3 separate regions of the Homo sapiens genome follow, and all the other regions are linked to region 3. The links come from fine-mapping of genetic effects on gene expression. A gene starts in region 3. Each other region holds a variant in brackets. All regions are shown on one strand. Distances are from middle to middle.

What was found.
Region 1: its variant is fine-mapped to the expression of NEBL in whole blood (INTERVAL, PIP above 0.99).
Region 2: its variant is fine-mapped to the expression of NEBL in whole blood (TOPMed, PIP 0.98).

Annotation. Positions count from the first base shown.
Region 1 is chr10:21,204,687-21,211,230 of GRCh38, forward strand. It overlaps a transcript of NEBL not described here. Among named protein-coding and RNA genes, the nearest start is that of NEBL-AS1, 34 kb to the left of the region's middle. The variant A/C (reference allele first, on the strand shown) is at 3,199.
Region 2 is chr10:21,216,494-21,223,037 of GRCh38, forward strand. It overlaps a transcript of NEBL not described here. Among named protein-coding and RNA genes, the nearest start is that of NEBL-AS1, 46 kb to the left of the region's middle. The variant G/A (reference allele first, on the strand shown) is at 3,606.
Region 3 is chr10:20,894,254-20,900,797 of GRCh38, forward strand. It overlaps NEBL (nebulette), which reads right to left and starts at 3,058. Exons shown (of 28, transcript NM_006393.3): 1 at 2,872-3,058; 2 at 2,705-2,776. The coding sequence starts at 2,952.

The DNA of each region.
Region 1 (6,544 bases), 310 kb after region 3:
CCTGAGGGCATCATCACTCCATGACACCCAGCCTGCCCTGCCTGGGGTGGGCAGAGCATTGTCAGAGGCAGCCCTCAGGAGAGAATCACAGGTACTTTCAGAATCACAGGTGACTGAGGAAGGAGTGGTGGGTGCCAAGCAACTGCAGGTGGGGCATTGACAGAGCCTGCTGCACTCCCCGTCATGAAACCATGACATTTAGCATTCTGGGGCAGCAGACGTGGTTTTTTTCTGCTGCATCATTTTCATCCCTTTTCCTGGCTGCCTAGCCTTGCACCAGGGTCCTGCCCTCCAAGGATTCAAAGAGCTACTATTTCATAAACTACTTTCCTGCTTCAATCAGTCAGAGTCCATTTCTGTTGTTTGCAACTAAGAATGCTCACTGTGCACTCCAAGTTGCATCTAGGCATGAAAACAAGAATTTATCAGTGTTATCTGCATCTTCCAACCCAATATTACAACAATAAAGGTGTCTAATTCATGACTGAAACAAGGCAAATTGGTACATGACCCTGAAGGGATACTATTTACAAAGTAAGATTACAATATCTGCCCCAAATGTGTAGCAAAAGCCTTAACATTTTGTTTACCATGTAGTCCAGCAGTTCTATTTCTAGCTAATTTGTCCTAAAATAATTGGACAAGAGCTGAATGAATGTGTATTGTGATGAACACATAATGATATTTAGGGCAATGTATATAATGTCAAAAATAAGAAATCAAATGTCCAAAATCAAGAGAATATTTAAACAAATTACAGTGTATCTTTAGTGGAATACTTTGCAGCTATTAAAAGTGACATTGCAGAAGTATATTTTTAATATGAAAAAATACTCATGATGTAAGCAAAAAAACAAATTACAGAACAATATAGATCCCATTTTTGTAAGAAGAAAACTTATTACATCTTGGACAAAATTCTGAAAGAATATATACCAATATATTATGGAAAAAAACACAATTACTTTGGCACCAACCTATTAATCAAAGCTAAATTTGGGTAGTAGAACAAAGGTGATTTTTATTTTCACCTTATATTTAGGTATATTTATGATTGCTCTATAATAAGTATTAGATACTAACCAAATTTTTACATAATAATAATAATACCTATTCTACCTCATTCACAGGGATAGGTAGGAAAGTGTGATTGTCACTAAAAATTTCATAAACATGCAGCTAAGGAAAGCCTCCATAGAATAAGATATATGATAATCTCCAAAACAATTTAGCATATAATTTCACAATGCATCAGTAGGACTGCTATGATTAGTATCAGCAGGCACAAAAATATCGTTAAGATTATGCATGAACCATTAGTCATCAGGTGCCAATTAATATGGGAATTCACTCAGTACTAAAAGTACAAACCTAAGATTGTCTTCAGCATCAGCTTCATCAGGATGTTCTGGAATAAAACCAATTACAAGAGACCAAAAAGTCCTGGCCAATAAAATGATCATTGGATTATATAAAATATTAGTAACGCAATGCATCTTGCTAATATCCTAATCGCTGTTAGCAGGAACACTTTTAAATCCTAAGGAGACAGAATTAAGTAAGGAGCTCTGGCAGAAGAATTAAAGCAAATGTATACATTGAATACTACTAAAATAAGTTATTTTGTCCTGGCAACTCTAATGCTTTGATAAATAAGTTACTCAACATCTTACAGAACTTGGAATTTAACATGTGCTAGTGAAAATTCAGAAGTCGTTCCTTTTACATGCTTGTCACATGGCCAAAATATTTTTATCTCAAAAATAAGTTGTAGCCATGAATTTAGCCCCCAGGGGCTGAGATCTAACCAGGGGGGTAGAAACTGTGGATTGCTCCTCACCCTCCCTTACTGTAACTGTAATAGGTTCATTGCCTGCCCATTGCTTATGGGAAGTCAACATACCTAGACACTGGGTTGCAGCAGAGAAAAAGTTTTGTAGTAGGGCCACTGAATGAGGAGACAGGAGGAACCTCAAATCTATCTCACCAAGGAGTTTGAGGCTAGGGTTTTCGAGAGTTTGGGAGTGGGCTGAAGTATAGAGATCGTTGACTGGTAGAAGAGTGCCAGAAGAAGTCGTGGGACAGGGAGATGAAGAAGCTGTATTCCCACGCCAATCCCATTCCTCTGTGGGGATTTTCCAGCTGGTTGTCATCAGCTGTTTCACTGGAATTCAGGACCAGAAAAAAACATAACTAAGTAATTCTTAAATAAAAGCCTTACAATTCCAATGTTGGGGATCCTATCTTAAGCAAAAGCCATATTATCATTTTCTTTTTCTTTCTTTTTTTTTTTTTTTTTTTTTTTTAGACAGAGTCTTGCTCTATAGCCCAGGCTAGAGTGCAGTGGTGCAGGCTCGGCTTACTGCAACCTCTGCCTCCCAGGTTCAACTAATTCTTCTGCCTCAGCCTCCTCAGTAGCTGGGATTACACACACCCACTACCACGCCTGGCTAATTTTTGTATTTGTAGTAGAGATGGGGTTTCACCATGTTGGCCATGCTGGTCTCAAACTTCTGACCTCAGGTGATTCACCTGCCTTGGCCTCCCAAAGTGCTGGGATTACAGACGTAAGCCACCACGCCCAGCCAAAAGCCATATAATTCTAATGTCAGACATCCTATCTATAGGAATGATGGGGATGTGAATGGTCTATATCTAGTACTATGTGACTTTCAGTCATAAGGAAGTGAGTCAAAGTACAGCCTGATTAATGCTTAATTATAACAATATTTCTGCCCAGAATTCTTATTAACTCTATAAAGATGGCATCATTGTCCCCTTTCCAACATCCTAACAAAACCCAGATTTGGTTTTTGTATTGACTGTGCACACACACACAGCCTGTTGTCCCCTCCTTTCTCCACCCTACTTTGCCCTAGAAGCCTGACCCTGCTGGACTACATCATGGGCTCTCATGACCTTGAGCTTCTGGTTGGGTTTGGCCAATGGGAGCCCCTGCAGGAGATCATGGAGCAGGGGAAGGGTAAATCCAGGGTAGTTCTTTCCCTGGCTCCCTCCTTACAGACTGGTTGCATCTCTCAGCCTAAGGTCCTAGCACTGGAAAAGCAGCCCTCTACCCACAGACTAGCTATACCTATGGAACATCTGTCTCTAGGTTCTAGAAACCATTCATTTAAAAAGTGGACAGAAGATACAGGGTCCAATGGGGTGAATCTCAGGATTCTTAACTTGGAACGT[A/C]GGCCCGAAGCAGTCTCTCTTATGACAGATACTGTTGAATTAGTTGATCCCAAAGAATCCAGCGTCTCAGTGGTGTCACAGGACCAACAGGTTCATATGTCCACTGCACAGTAACAAACCAACTACACTGAGACAGCAGAGTTTGCAGCAGAGAAAGAGTTTAATGATCACAGGGTGCCAAGTGAGGATATGAGAGGAAAACCTCAAATCCATTTCCCTGAGGAGTTCTAGGCTGGGGTTTTTAAGAAGATTGTGGAGGATAAAGGGCTAGGAAATTGGGGTCATTGATTGGTCAAGGTAAGATGGATGAAATCATCAGGACATAGAAATTGCATTCTTTGATGACTCAGCTCATGGGGGTCCTTCAGACCAGCTAACGTCTAGTTTCACTAGTATGCAGGACCTGAAAGAGTATCTCAAAAGGAAAAATTAATGTCTCATAATGTGCAAGTTGTTGTCTTTAGGGCAGTTAAGGGAACTATAATCTTGTAACAGGTTCTAGCAATTCTGAGGCAATAGGTACTGAACAACTACAAGGAAGAGGTCAGACAGCAGGCTGACCTCATGATTAATGCTGAATATGCTAAAACTTGGTTTATTTTTGTTTCTCTCCCTCCCTCCTTCTCTAATTAATTTTATAAAGTTTATAGGGACAGTTTCAGTGGCTGACACAAGGGAAGTTTATTTCTTGCTCATGTTACAGAACAGTGAGGGTCAGCATGAAATGAGAGGGATCTACTTCCAGAAGTCACCATGAACCCAGGCTGCTTTCTTCCAATGTCTCCACTATTCCCTATGGCCCCTGTTCTTGCTGCAGGTGGGGAGAGCACGAGCAAGGAGCAGGCCTGGAAGTCACATACATTCCTTCCACCCACATTCCATGGGCTGGAACTCAGCCCTACAACCCCACTTAACTGCAGGGGCCTGGGAAAACGTAGTCCAACAGCATGGCAGGGAAAAAGAAAACAGAACAGTTTGGTAAACAACCAGCCAGTCTGCACCTCACCCTTCCAGCAAGGAGTAGCTAGATAAGTCAAGACTGCTCCTGGTAGCATGTGATAGGAACTGAACTATGGTGACTCGGCCAAATAAGGGTGCCCTTTGTTTGTTTTTATACAGCAAGGAATCTGGGAGTAGGTAACTCAGAGATGTTTAAGGAATCCGGCTTCTCCTCCCTTCTTTCTCTGCAATCCTTAAAGTATGAATTCTGTCTCCCAGTTGCAAGATGGTGCCAGGTATTCTGCCCAAATTCCAGGCAGGGGAAAGGTGAAAGGGCAAAGTGCAAATGACAAAAGGAATGTGTCTGACAAGTTTAGTCGCTTTTTAAAAAGACTTTTCTGGAAGCCCCCCTCTCATAGGATGGTCTCTTTCATGACTACACTGCCTTAAGAAAACCTAGGGAAGGGTTGCCAGATAAAACACAGGACGTTCGGTTAAATTTGAATTTCAGATAAACAACAAATAATTTTTAGTATAAGTATGTATGTCCCATGCTGGGTATCCTGTTTTTTGTTTGTTTTTGCTAAATCTGGAAAGTCTAGCCTCGGGAGATGTGTATTTTTTCATGGATACATTGCCCCTCTGAAAAAAGTCAAGATTCTGTTGAAAAGAAAGAGAGGAAAATGGACTTCAGGTAGGCAGCTGGAAGTATATGTCCCAGTGACCACAGGACCCAATACGTGCCAATAGCACATAAGCAGAAGTCTGCAGGATGTGTCTTCCAGGAAGTTTCTCCTATCTCCTGATACAATTAGGCACCTGACCTTTTTTTTTTTTCTTTTTTTTTTTTTTCTTTTTTTTACCACAGTTGTGACTCCTGGAGGACCAGGAGCCATCTTGAGATCACGAGGTAACAAACATGAGAACAGAGGCCTACACGTCAAAGATGGAGAAACAGAAAGATAATCAGTGCCTGGGTCCAGAAGGGATTGTTGCCCTGCTGGGGAAGGCTATCCAGGCTGACACTGTCTTTCCTTGCACTCCACGATTATCCTTGTGGAGCCAGGAACTGGTGTCACGCTTGTCAGGATGAGGGACCTTAGAATTAAACCAAGACCAAAAAGAGGATACAGCTGATAGAATTTCCCCAAAACCAGACCCATTTGGTTAAGCTGACCCTAAAGCCCCAATTGCTCAATACCTCCAGTTCCACGAGCCTCAAAATGTCCTTATTGTTTAAGATCATTTGAAGCAAGGTTTCTGTTCCTTGTAGGAAAAACATCATGGGCAGGGCATGGTGGCTCACACCTCTAATCCCAGCACTTTGGGAGGCCAAGACAGGCAGATCACCTGAGGTCAGGAATTTGAGACCAGCCTGGACAACATGGTGAAACCCTGTCTCTACCAAAAATACAAAAAACTTAGCTGGGTGTGGTGGCAGGCGCCTGTAATCCCAGCTACTAGTGAGGCTGAGGCAGGTGAATCACTTGAACCTGAGAGACGGAAGTTGCAGTAAGCCGAGACTGCACCACTGCACTCCAGCCTGGGTGACAAGCAAAATTCTGTCTCAAAAAAAAGAAAGAAAGAAAAACATCCTAACTAAGAAAACCAAACTCTCCAGTCCAATACATATACTTCTAACAGATTTGACATTTATCTCATTATACAAATATGCAGAAAGAAAATTAACATTAGGCAATATAACATTGCTGCCATTTTTAAGGAGGAATATGTATATTTTTACAAACAAAAATTCAAAGCAAAATCATACAATTAAATGTTTGTGTCAAGTATGTTTTTTCCATATCATTCTATGTATCTTGTAAGGCCTGTAAATAGATTAAAATTTTTGTTGTTACTTATTCCCACTGGTTCTGGAGTCATGCACTAAAGTGCTGCATTTTTAAGTTTCAATAATTGGACTCCTGAGACTCACAGAGAGGAGGAACATACGTTAAGATATCATATTCTATTCTCAACATGTGACTGTCATTATCTTCCAACTCAATAATGCTTATAAATGTACACGCTATGTATGAGCTACTGTAAGTCTTTAAAAAACCTGTAGCTTTACATTTACAGCTATCCTAGCCAGTAGGAGTTAATTTTAGCTGGGTTGCACCTATTGTTTCATGCATGCCCTCTAGGTTCTTTGGAAACACTGTAAAATATTATGACCCAAAAACAGAAAACCATGATCCATATCCTCAGTCACGTTTTCTTTGACATGGGCAACATGTCACAGATTCAGTAGGAATAAAGGCCACTCGCAGAAAGAGGAGATAGACTAAGTCTCGATTTGATCATCCTTATCAATGCTATGTAGGAAAGGAAAGGAAAATCCTGGCATGAAAACAATCAAAAATAGTCATTGGCCGAGTGCAACAGCTCATGCCTGTAATCCCAG
Region 2 (6,544 bases), 320 kb after region 3:
CAGGCGCAGTGGTTCAAGCCTGTAATCCTAGCACTTTGGGAGGGCAAGGTAGGCGGATCATGAGGTCAGGAGTTCGATACCAGCCTGGCCAACACAGTGAAACCCTGTCTCTACTAAAGACACAAAAATTAGCTGGGCATGGTGGCACACACCTGTAGACCCAGCTTCTTGGGAGGCTGAGGCAGAAGAATTGCTTGAACCCAGGAGATGGAGGTTGTGGTGAGCCGAGATCGCACCACTGCACTCTAGGCTGGGCAACAAAGCAAGACTCCATCTCGAAAAAAAAAAAAGAAAAAGAAAAAAGAAAAGAAACACGAAAACCCATCACTACTAAATATACAAAAATTAGCCGGGTGTGGTGGCACGTGCCTGTAATCCCAGCTACTTGGGAGGCTGAGGCAGGAGAATCGCTTGAACCCAGAAGGTGGAGGTTGCAGTGAGCCAAGATCGCGCCACTGCACTCCAGCCTGGGAGACAGAGCAAGACTCAGTCTCGAAGAAAAAAAAAAATCATACTTTTGCTAATTTTACTAAACTACTACCATAGGAACACAATACCCCTGGGAAGGGGCTCTGCACTGAGGGGACCTGATGTGAGTGTCGTTAGCTTCAAGGTAAGTCCACCTCTGCACGCACAGTTGTTGGGGAAGACTTCTTCAGCAGCACCCAGAGAAGCTGGCATCCCCCCAAAATCTAAAACAGATGAGAGGGTAGTTATCAGGTTAAGTATACAGAATTTACTTAAGAGGTCATGGAGAGGAATCCAGAAGTTTCCTCCAAATTGAGCCACAGCCAGAGACAGAGAAAGCAAAACAATCATGAGCCCAAGTCACAAGGGACAGTGCTCCAAATTACAGGCATAGACTTGCCAAGGAGCTGCTTCTCACAGGGGAAACTCTATCTGGTTTGTTTCGGAGTGGGGAGCAGCAGCTATTTATTTATTTAAAGGTGGTGAACAGCTCTCCCAAATATTGCCAGGTGGCCAGCAAGTTCTAAATACGACTGGCTTCCAATAATTTGAAAACTTTAACATTGATAGCATCTGCTGTTGAGAAAAAAAAGTGTAGGCTTTGGGTGCCACACAACTGTGGATTCAAATCCAGGCTCTGCTAGTTACTAGCTATATGACCCTAGATAAGATACTTCGCTGCTTGGAATCTTGGTCTTCTCACCTGCAAATGGGTTTAACAATATTTACTCTATAGTATTACTTGAAGATTCATGGTATTTGTGACAATTCTGCCACAAATGAAATTTTCATCAAATAGTAGTCATTATTATAAAGCTGTATTTTCCATTTATTTTGGCTTGGCACAAAGATGATTCAAACCTCATCTGCAATTTGTGCATTTCCATCTGGCAGCAACCAACAAGTCAGCTAAGATGGCGACTTACTCTAAGGGTGCAACCTACAGCAAGCCTGTCCATCACAGTACTAGCCAGCTAAAGTTTGTTACAAGCTTTCAGTCTGCTGCGGAGGGACAAGCTGGACATCATTTGGGGCTCTGAGAGTCTTGAGTTCTGACCTGGTCGGTGAGCTAGTGTACGAATATTCCACATACAAATTCTTTGGCCTCATGGATACTTTTCATAAAGCTACCGGAAGAAATCCTGACACCCAGGCAATCACCAAGCCAGGCCACAAGTACAGGGACAGATATGGGCTGCTATCTGTAGGCGCAAGAGCCTTGGCCCTGGAAAGGGCCACTCATCCCAACATCCTGTGGCGATCGTCACCAGGCAGGTGGGAAAAGACACAACACTCCCCAGCCCCACCGTTACCATCGATAAAAGTAATGTTTGCAAAATGCATACCTAACAATTTAGGACAGTTCAGGTCTGCTTGATAGTGTTCTTTAATTTGCCTGTTTAAACCATTCTACAGATAGTTTCATGACTGTCAGATTACAAAAGTTACAATGCAATGATATTTGAAGACTCTATGTGATGGTGTGTCTTCTTTCTCATAAGATAAAATTTTTTTATCTTTGCTTTATCTTATAAAGGAGTTATATATCAGACATGCTGTGTGGTATAATAGATGTAAAATAAATTATTTAAAAGAGGAAAAAATGCAGGAGTGTTGAGGAGGAAAAACTTTTCCTCTGCCCATGGAACACAAAAGTTCCATGACTTGGGTCCTTCACATTTAACTGATAAAAGACAGATTAAACAGGAGAAATGGAATACACAATTTATCGATATCTACATGCACTGGGAGGTCACAGAAAAGAAGGAGAACCCAAGGAAGTGATCAGACTTGGGGACACATGCCATTGTAACAAAGGAAAAAGGGTTTGGGCTTCAAGGGAAAATAAATTGCAGCAAAGTGAGTAGGAACTATATGGAGAAAGCTAACGGGAGATAAGGGTTATTTTCGTAAAATCTGTTTATGCACATTCATTTTGCTGACCCTCCAACTTCCTGGTACATTTGCTCTCCTCTTCCTGGTACAGGACAGGGGAAACCTTCACAGACGGAACCTTATGCCCTGCTTTTAGGCAGAAAAGAGGAGAGAAGAGAATGCTTCCTATTTGATTCTCATTGCCTTCAGCTCAAAATAATCCTCATGCCACAGTGGCATATTTTGGGATGGCATACCCCAATCCCCTGCAGGAGCATGTGGTCAGGCCAAGACATCAGCCTTTGATTTGTTATAAATGAAAACTTTCTAAAAATGTGAGTTGGGTGTGTGTTTGATGTGTATTTGGTTTAGGAATAAAGTGAGAAAAGGTATTAATTATAAGTAATAAATGAAATTAAAAATGTATTTTTTATAAGTGAGGGCTATATAAATTACAAAGTAGTCAGGACTGACTTAAAGCCTAGAATTTCTGCTACTAAAATGTATATTTCGGAGGCTAAAACCAACCTATTGACATTCAAGAGTATTGAAGCAAATGTAAATGTGTCTGTACTCCTAGACTCTATTACCATTTTTTTCCTCAAATAAGCTCATTTTGGCATTTAAAAAACAACTGATATTTTTACTCCAGTAGCATGCTGTTTTGATTACTATAACTTTGTGGAACATTTTGAAATGAAGTAGTGTGATGCCTGTAGCCCAAGACTGCTTTGACTATTCCTGGTCTTTTATGGTTTCATATGAATTCTAGGACTGTTTTTTTCTAATGCTATCAGAATTTTGATAGAGATTGCATTGAATCTATAGATCGATTTGAGTAGTATATGTATTTTGACAATATTAATTCTGCCAATTCATGAACATAGGATGTTTTTTCACTTATTTGTGTTCTCTTCAACTACCTTTATCAATATTTTACAGTTTCCAGTGTACAGATGTTTCACCTTGGTTTAATTTATTCCTCAATTTTTTGTGCTATTGTAAATGAGATTATTTTCTTGGGTTTTTTTTTTTTTTTGGAAAGTTCATTGTTAGTGTATACAAATGCTATTAATTTTTGTTTGTTTGTTTGTTTAGACAGAGTATTGCTTTGTTGCCCAGGCTGGAGTACCATGGGACGATCTCGGCTCACTGCAACCTCCACCTCCCAGTTCAAGCAATTCTCCTACCTCAGCCTCCCAAGTAGCTGGGATTACAGGCACCCACCACCATGCCTGGCTAATTTTTGTATTTTTAGTAGA[G/A]GCAGGATTTCACCATGTTGGCCAGGCTGGTCTCGAACTCCTGACCTCAAGTGATCCGCCCATCTTGGCCTCCCGAAGTGCTGGGATTACAGGCATGAGCCACCATGCCCGGCGTGATTTTTGTATGTTGATTTTGTATCCTGCAACTTTACTGAATTCATTTATTAGTTCTAACAGCTTGCATCTGGCATAAAAACAGACATATAGACCAATGTAACAGAGCAGAGAGCTCACAGATAAATCCACACTATTATGATCAATTGATCTTTGACAAAAGTACCAAGAACATACAATAGGGAAAGGACAATCTTGACAATAAATGGTGTTAAGGAAACTAGATATCCACATGCAGAAGAGTGAAATTGGACTTTTATCTCCCACCATATACAAAAATCAACTCAAAATTAATTAAGGGCTTAAATGTAAGATCAGACACTATAATGCTACTAGAAGAAAACTTAGGGGAAAAGCTCCATGACATTGATCTGGACAATGATTTTCTGGATGTTACCCCAAAAGCAGAGGCAACAAAAGCAAAAATAGGCAAATGGGATTGCATCAAACTAAAAAGGTTCTGCACAGCAAAGGAAACAATCAACAGAGTGAAGAGATAACCTATGGAATGGGAGAAAATAATCTGCAAATCATACATCAGATAAGAAGTTAATATTCAAGATATATAAGGAACTCAACCAATTCAATATCAACAAAACAAATAACCTAATTTTAAAATGGACAAAGGACCTGAATAGATTCTTCTCAAAACAAGACATACAGTTGGGCATGGCGGCTCATGCCAGTAATCCCAGCGCTTTGGGAGGCCGAGGCAGGAGGATTACTTGAGCCAGGAGTCCCAGACCAGCCTGGGTAACACAGCAAGACTCCATGTCTACAAAAAATTTTAAAAATTAGCCAGGCGTAGTGGCATGCACCTGGAGTCCCAGTAGTCAGGAGCTGAGGTGGGAGGATTGCTTGAGCCCAGGAGTTGGAAGCTTCAGAGAGCTATAACCACACCACTGCACTCCAGCCTGGGTGACAGGGAGAGACTCTACCTCAAAAAACATATTTAAAAATAACTACATGAAGTGATGGATAGGTTAATTAGCTTGACTCATGCATTTCACAATGTATACATATATAAAAATATCACGTTGTACACTGTAAATATATACAACTTTTATTTGTCAATTGTACCTTAACAAAGCTGAGGGATGGGGATTTAAAAATAAAGAATAAAAAAATAACTGACACAAATGTGCGAGGCTACTCTGATGAGAGCTAAGCCCCTGCAGTCACAGCATGCTAAACTATCATTCAATGAGACACACGTAAGTCAGCCTTCATCTTCTCAGTGCATTCTTTCAAGTCCTACCTATTCTACAAGAAAAACAGATGTCTGATTTCTTTCTTTCTTTCTTTTTTTTTTGACAGAGGCTTGCTTTGTTGCCCAGGCTGGAGTGCACTGGCCCGATCTCGGCTCACTGCAAGCTCTACCTCCCAGGCTCAAGCGAGTCTCCTGCCTCAGCCTCCTGAGTAGCTGGGACTACAAGCACATGCCACCACACCCAGCTAATGTTTGTATTTTTAGCAGAGACAGGGTTTCACCACGTTGGCCAGGCTGGTCTTGAACTCCTGACCTCAAGTGATCCGCCCGCCTTGACCTCTCAGAGTGCCAGGATTACAGGCATGATTTCTTTTCACTTAAAAATAAAAACTTTTTAGCAAGTTACATCAGGGAAATTAAGAAAGTCCTGGCTTCTGTCCTCTCTCATTCATCTTTGTATTGTTCCTTTTTACATAAACACTGAGACCTAGGTGCCCATCCTGACTGCATGGCGTTGAGTGATGAAAGATGAGACCCCCTAGAAGGAGGTAGTGAGGCTCTGAGCAAGCCCGTTCTCTTTGGTGCCCCCGAGAACCAAATGGGAGCCTGTCATTGGGCTGCAGTGAACTCTGCCATGTTCATTTCAACAGGTTTTATACCACTATCTCATTTTGAAGTTTATATTTTGAAATTATGGTATACCCAAAATGAAGAGGTGCTTTCAAAAAGTTTAGTGATTTGGACTGGGCACGGTGGCTCACACCTGTAATCCCACCACTTTGGGAGGCCGAGGTGGGAGAATCGCTTAAGCCCAGGAGTTGAGAGGCCAGCCTGGGCAACACAGTGAGACCCTGTCTCTACCAAAAAAAAAAAAAAGGGTAATGATTTGAAACTAGGTTTCAGTTTAATTCTCACCATTTTTATATCCTAGAGAATAATTCCTTTAAATTACGTATTTTGCTTTGCTTTTTTCATTTTTTTACTCTTCAAATCTCATTTTCTCCTGTGAAATCCACAGTTTACTTGTTCTGTGTTTTTGGTGTTATTGTTGCTGATGGTGTTTTTGGTTAATATGATTAAAGAAAAACTTTTTTACTAATACCTTATTGCTGCCAATTCTAAAATTTCTAACCCTGCCAAGTCACTACTATTTTCTTTGTGTTACTTTTTTAATTTTTAATTTTTGTGGGTACATAGTAGGTGTATATATGTATGGGGTACATGAAATATTTTGATACAGGCATACAATGTGTAATAATCACATGGGGTAAATGGAATATCCATCACCTCAAGCATTTATCCTTTCTTTGCATTACAAGCAATCCAATTATGCTCTTTTAGTTTTCTTTTTTTTTGTTAGACAGAGTTTTGTTCTTGTCGCCCAGGCTGGAATGCAATGGTGCGATCTCAGCTCACTGCAACCTCTGCCTTCCAGGTTCAAGTAATTCTCTGGCCTCAACCTCCCAAGTAGCTGGGACTACAGGCATGCACCACCATGCCCGGCTAATTTTTGTATTTTTAGTAGAGACAGGGTTACAGCATGTTGGCCAGGCTGGCCTTGAACTCCTAACCTCAGGTGATCCACCCACCTTGGCTTCCCAAAGTGCTGGGATTA
Region 3 (6,544 bases):
AAAGCCAAGAGCTTGAGACCAGCCTGGGCAACATAGTGAGACTCCATCTCTACGAAAAAGAAAATGAAAATTAGCCAGGCATGGTAGCACACACCTGTAGTCCTAGCCACTTGGAAGGCTAAGGCTGGAGAATCACTTGAGCCCAGGAAATTGAGACTGCAGTGAGCTGCAGTCACATGACAGAACTCCAGCCTGGGCAACAGAGTGAGACTCTGTCCAGAAAAATAAAAAAGAAGAAGGAAGGAAGGAAAAAAAGGAAGAAAGAAAAGAAGAGAAAAAGGAAAAAAATCTAAAAATTAAATAAGTATCTTAGCAAGTATAGAATTCTATTCGGAAGCAAAATGTGAATGTGTATACAGATATAAATTAAGCCAGAATAGGCCGGGCATGGTGGCTCACGCCTGTAATCCCAGCACTTTGGGAGGCCGAGGCGGGCAGATCACGAGGTCTGGAGATCGAGTCCATCCTAACTAACACGGTGAAACCCCGTCTCTACTAAAAAAAAAAAAAAAAAAATACAAAAAAATTAGCCGGGCTTAGTGGCAGGCGCCTGTGGTCCCGGCTACTCGGGTGGCTGAGGCAGGAGAATGGCGTGAACCCAGGAGGCGGAGCTTGCAGTGAGCCGAGATCGTGCCACTGCCCTCCAGCCTGGGTGATAGAGCGAGACTCTGTCTAAAAAAAAAAAAAAAAAAAAAAATTAAGGCAGAATAATCATGTCCTAAATTTAAGTAGTACATTCTACCATGCCACAAAAATCTGTAATAAACAGAAAGTATGCCTATCTGTTTCATTTTACCTACGTGGGTGTGAAATGTATGGATTTAGCTTTTGCATAATGATAAAGGCCACCACCCCTCACAACATGTTGGTTTTAAAGTCACTGATAGACAATCTTATCCAAAACAACTCCAACCAAATCACCTACTAACTACAGTTACCACTTTAGTCCTGATGGTTTATGTAACACAAGTTAGCTCAGCTATAATTGCACTTCAATAAAAATATATCAAAGCTGGAAGAGGTTAGGAACTCAGGGTTTTAGTTGGTAGCATTACTACTAATAATAGTAACATAATAATAATAAGGCGAAGAACAACATTTCATGGAAATCTACAGGGAGAGATAACTTGGCAGTGTAAAGAGGGAGGCCTCTGTGTTCAACTATTACTGCCTCTGCTTAACTGTGTGACCCAGGCAAGGTACTGAACCTCTCTGTGCCTCTATCTCCTCGCTTCAGAAATGAGAAAAAGCCTAGCGCCTACCTCGCAAGCTGCAATCCCTGGCACACAATAGTCACTAAATCTTAACTGTTGCCAATAGTGTTATTGTTGTTGTTGTTGTCATTGTCACTTATTATTACTGCAATTTACAGAGAACTTTCACATACAATAGCTAATGACTATTAAGTAATAGCACAAAGAAATACTTAATTTAAAGGGTAATTACATCACATGTCAAGTATATGGGAAAGGGTATGATTTCCACCAGCATCCTTTGTGCTTGCCTTCTGGTTTGTCAGAAAGAGCCAGTCATATCTAAATTGTGATTGGATGGATGTAAAAGGAAGTAACAGACAGAGTAGTTAATAACAGCTAACATTTATGGAGTACTCACAATGTTCCAGATAGTTTATTCAGCATTTATATGCATTACCATTATTTAATCTTATTATAAATGTTACAGCTGAGGGATGGAGCCAAGCCAGGTTCCATAACCTTCCCAAGGTTACTGGGGAGTCAACCCAGGCAGGTTGACTTTGGAGGATGTGCCAGACCACTACCCTCCTGCCCAGGACTGACTTCCGTTAGAAAACAAACGTGCAAAACATTCTGATCATTTTGCTTATTATCAACAACAGAAACAACCAGTATTGTGCTCATCTCTCTAAATGAAGACACAGGCACATATTCACTTTACAGGAGTTACCCTTTCTCTGGACCAGCAATCCTCTTAGAACCGCTAATGAGGATCATCTAAATTCTCATCCCTGGTGAGCAACATTTTTCCTTGTACTTCTTGAATTCTAGCTTACATATTTAACATAAAATTATATGTTCAATCATTCAATAATTCTGGGATTCCCTTAAAGTGTAATATCAACCAATCCCAGTTACTAAAAAATGTCACAACAAAAATACCCCTTGCACTAATATCCTTGCACTAATATCAGGGTTCTTAGCAAGCAGGTCAGTAATCAACAAATCCTGAATTGTAAATAAATATTATATGCATATATATATATATATATATATATATATATATATGCATTTTCCTGTTCTGGAAGACAAGTCCATTCATTAGATTGTTCAGAAGGCCCCAAAATGTTAAAAAAATGACTATTCATTTAGATAGAGGGCCTCCCAAGACAAATTACATCATTATATTCATTTTAAAATCTTTGGGGGTTCTCAAATGGAATAAATACTGCAATTCAATGCCTTATGATTTCATGCCAGCGTGACAGCAAAACTCATAAGGGACAGGATTCTGGATTAAGAATGAGGAGACTTGCTCTAGCAGAAATTCTCTGTATAGGTGACCTTGGGGAAATCACTGAAAATTTCAGGACTTTGTTCCATGATCTGGAAAGTGACTGTGTTTTAAAAGGTGATTTCAGGGTTTCCCCCACAGCTCTATGACTCTATAACATAATAATACCACAGGTGCAATGCAAAATAAGACAAAAATTACTCCAGCCACTTACATCGCTAATGAGTTCCGTGCATTTTCTGGCCAATTCCATGCTTAAGTCTTCAATAACAGGCTTATAGAAGACCTATTTGAAAAAAAAGAAAAGAACAGAAAGAACATTTTTCTCATTGTCAATTTAGAGGAACAAACGCTGGTCTGAGTATGTGTTTTCTCACTCACCTGGTCTTCTTCATTTTCTTCTTCCCCTATCTTTTCTTCTTCAGTTTCATCTTTTATATCCTCAAATACAGGGACCCTCATTTTTACCCTTTAAAATATTTATATTTTTAAAATTTACTCATGTGGCGTCCTTTTCCATACCACAGTGCCCTTGAGATGCTGACGTCTCTGGTGCTCTGGCAGAAATGCCCTTGCCCAAGCCTCAGCCCTATTTAGCCCACACTTCACTCCTTATCTCAGTGGTGTGTGAGTGAACAGAAAAGGATCCCAGAGGTCTACCAGGCTGGCCTCACAAGTGGAAATAACATATTCTTAAGCAAAATTTGATTTTATGAACTTTTAAAGTCAACATTTTTTCCACTGGTTAAGAAATCCAAAAGAAAAAATTTATTTATCTTTTACTAATTCTATTCATTCATAAAAGAGCATAAAAAGGACTTAGAGATTCTGGGAAAACTACTCAGCTCTAACACTCAAGATAGCACAGTCCAAAGCCTGTTATCTCAAAGATTCCTTGTCTCTGTCTAAATAAAGCTTTCACTGGAATGTCAGACTTCCTTCTGACTTGGGGTAGTGAATCTGGATCATTCAAACTCATTTTGTCAACCTAAATTATATGTTTTATCAGACATACCAGTACTTCTCACATCCTAAAAAATACCCACTTTATATTAGCTGATTAGAGGCTACTTATTTATTATGAAAAGCCCTTTGAACCACTTCAAAGAATCTATTCTGAGTTAATTATGACTGTTAGTATTATACTGGCGAGTATGGTATTGTATTAATTGTAAACATCATTAAACATGAGAAGTTGCAGTTAACATATGTTGATACATAATTTAACAATTCTGGAAACATCGTTTCAAAAATCATCATCATCATCTTTGAATTCTGCAGTTCTACTCATCATGTCAATTTTTACAAAGTCATTGGTGATTTGCATTATTACTCAATGGGCACCCCACATTCAGAAAAGTTTGGAAAAATAAACCATCACAATATTTATAATGTAGTGTATGTCCTTGGTTACGTAAAACCAAGGTTAAAAAAAAATTTCTCAAAACAAATATTTTAATGTCAATTCAGGCAATTCCAAGACTCCCTACAACTCACAATTTATTAATCTGGTTATGTAAATCCTAGGGTAAATTAATTTTACCAAGTCATAGCACATTAGCATTGGGCATAAAAAATACCCTACACTGAATAGTAATACTGATGATACAAAATACAAATTTATTAAAAATAGTATGTCATTCTAAGTAGCCAAGCATAATTTTTTCTCTTGATATCATATCTAGTTTTCAATGTACTGTAAAAAAAAAATGCCTTGGCCTTACCTAAACTGAAAATCCTGACAAGAAAAACATTCTACACAGTCATCACGTATAAATTATTTCTGAAATTGTGTTCCATGAGGCAAAAGTTCCACAAAAGATTCTGGGGGAAAAAAGCAGGTTTCTTAAACAAATATGTTTGGGAAATCTGTACCCCAGTCTCTGTCCCTGCCACTTAGAGATCTACAAGGCATATTGACATACTAGAAGTTCTGAGAAGACCTTCAACCAAAAAACCTGCTTAGGCTTGCTTAACCTCGTGTTCCCCTGAACACAAACCTGTTTATCTCATCAAATCTAATCCAATTTAATCTAATCTACCTACCTACCTATCTACCTATCTTTTTTTTAATCATACCCACTACCCCAGAAAACTAACACTCCTCTGTGAAATATGACCGACTGCTTAGGGAAACATTGCTCTATTCTCCTAAAATGTTGTGTTCTAGAAGGAGCTGTTGGTCTTGAACTAGTTTTTGATACAGGCTAAATTAATGGTATCACATATCCTGTTCACCAACAAAATACCAAAAAGAAATTGCCTCAAGCATGCTGAACTTGGAAACCACAACTCTAAGATTACAGCCATATCATGCTGGCCCAGTGTAGTGGATTCCACAAGGACATTCCTTGTATATTTTATTTGTTCCGTAAAAGGAAAGAATGTGTGCATTCCAATTATTTCCCTCAAGTCCTCTGCTGGCCAGAAGACTATTCTAATATTCTATAGATCTATTACATTATCTTTATTTGGAAATAGGGAGGAGTAATTTCTGTAAACTTGTCTTGCAAATTTCTAGGAGTGTAGGGAGAAAATCTTGCCAAAACTGCCTGAGACACACCTTTTGGCTCATATTTGAGGAGACAGTACTGGTGTTACTCAGGGTGACACCTATTCCCCAAGGTGAATTACCTTCATCAGGCTTGCAGTGCAGTTATTTCTCATTTCCCATCACGTAATATGTTCTTAGGGACTCTTCACTGTGCTGCAAGAAAATAAGCTGTTGAGATTTAATGCACAAACTTTTGAAAACAAAAACCAAACACCACGTGCAATGTGAACACAAATTTTCCATTTGAGATTCTAGAATCAGAATTTCAAGCCAAAGGGATCCTTAAGAAATCAATACACCTAAAGCCCTCTCTTTCACAGATGACAAAATGAAGGCTATGAAAAATTATGTGTCTCATTTACAAAGCCATTCAATGAAGCACTAGGATCAGAACCTAACTAGAGACCTGTGTTCATTTGTTCAACAAATAAATGTTGTTATGCCAGGCACTGTGCTTGGTGTTAGAGATAGAATGGTGAATAAAATATTCTTCATACTAAGATAGAATTGGAAATAAAATACTCATCACTCAACACTTGCTGGATGAAGTCTTTAATGGATCGTTTGGCAAGCTAGAGACACCATTACTTTTGATTGAATACATCTTTTTTCCTCTCACCTATAATATAAAATTCATGCAAAGTTTTCTCTAAAAAAGTGTTAAGCCCTGCACTTCATCACAGCAAAGTTTTCTTGTCAGTAGCTCTAAAATATGACATGGAGAATATGAAGAAAGTGTTCCTCATGGACAGCTATCATGTTTCAAAATCCCCTATCGACTTTTCCAAAAACCAAGCTTAATGTATTTTAATAGATATTTTCACCTTGGGTTGCTCCAAAAGGCAAAATCTCTGTAGCTGCTCATAGCTTTTACTTATTGGGCACTTCTTTTATGTTGTTTACTTTTCTACTTTAGTACTCTACGCATGCCTTGATACAGAATGAGACCAAGAGACATCACTTATGGCTAAACTCTCAAAGTCCAGGTCTGGCTCTGCCATGTCCTCTAGGGCAAATTATTCAACCCCTCACTACCTCTAATTCTTCATAGTTAAACAGAAAAACTGAGTTGACAGAAGTTAATAAAAAGAAAGCACTGGCTGGGTGCGCAGTGGCACACGCCTGTAATCCCAGCACTTTGGGAGGCTGAGGCAGGCAGATCACAAGGTCAGGAGTTCGAGACCAGCCTGACCAACATGGTCAAACCCCGTCTCTAGTAAAAATAGAAAAATTAGCCGGGCATGGGCTGGGTGCGGTGGTTCACGCCTGTAATCCTAGCACTTCGGGAGGCCAAGGCAGGTGGATTGCTTGAGCTCAGGAGTTCGAGACCAGCCTAGGCAACATGGTGAAACCCCATCTCTACTAAAATACAAAAAAAAAAAAAAAATTAGCCGAGTGTGATGGCAGTAGATGGGATTACGCCTGTAATCCCAGCTACTAGGGAGGCTGAGACAGAAGAATCGCTTGAACTTGGGAGGCGTAGGTTGCAGTGAGCCAAGA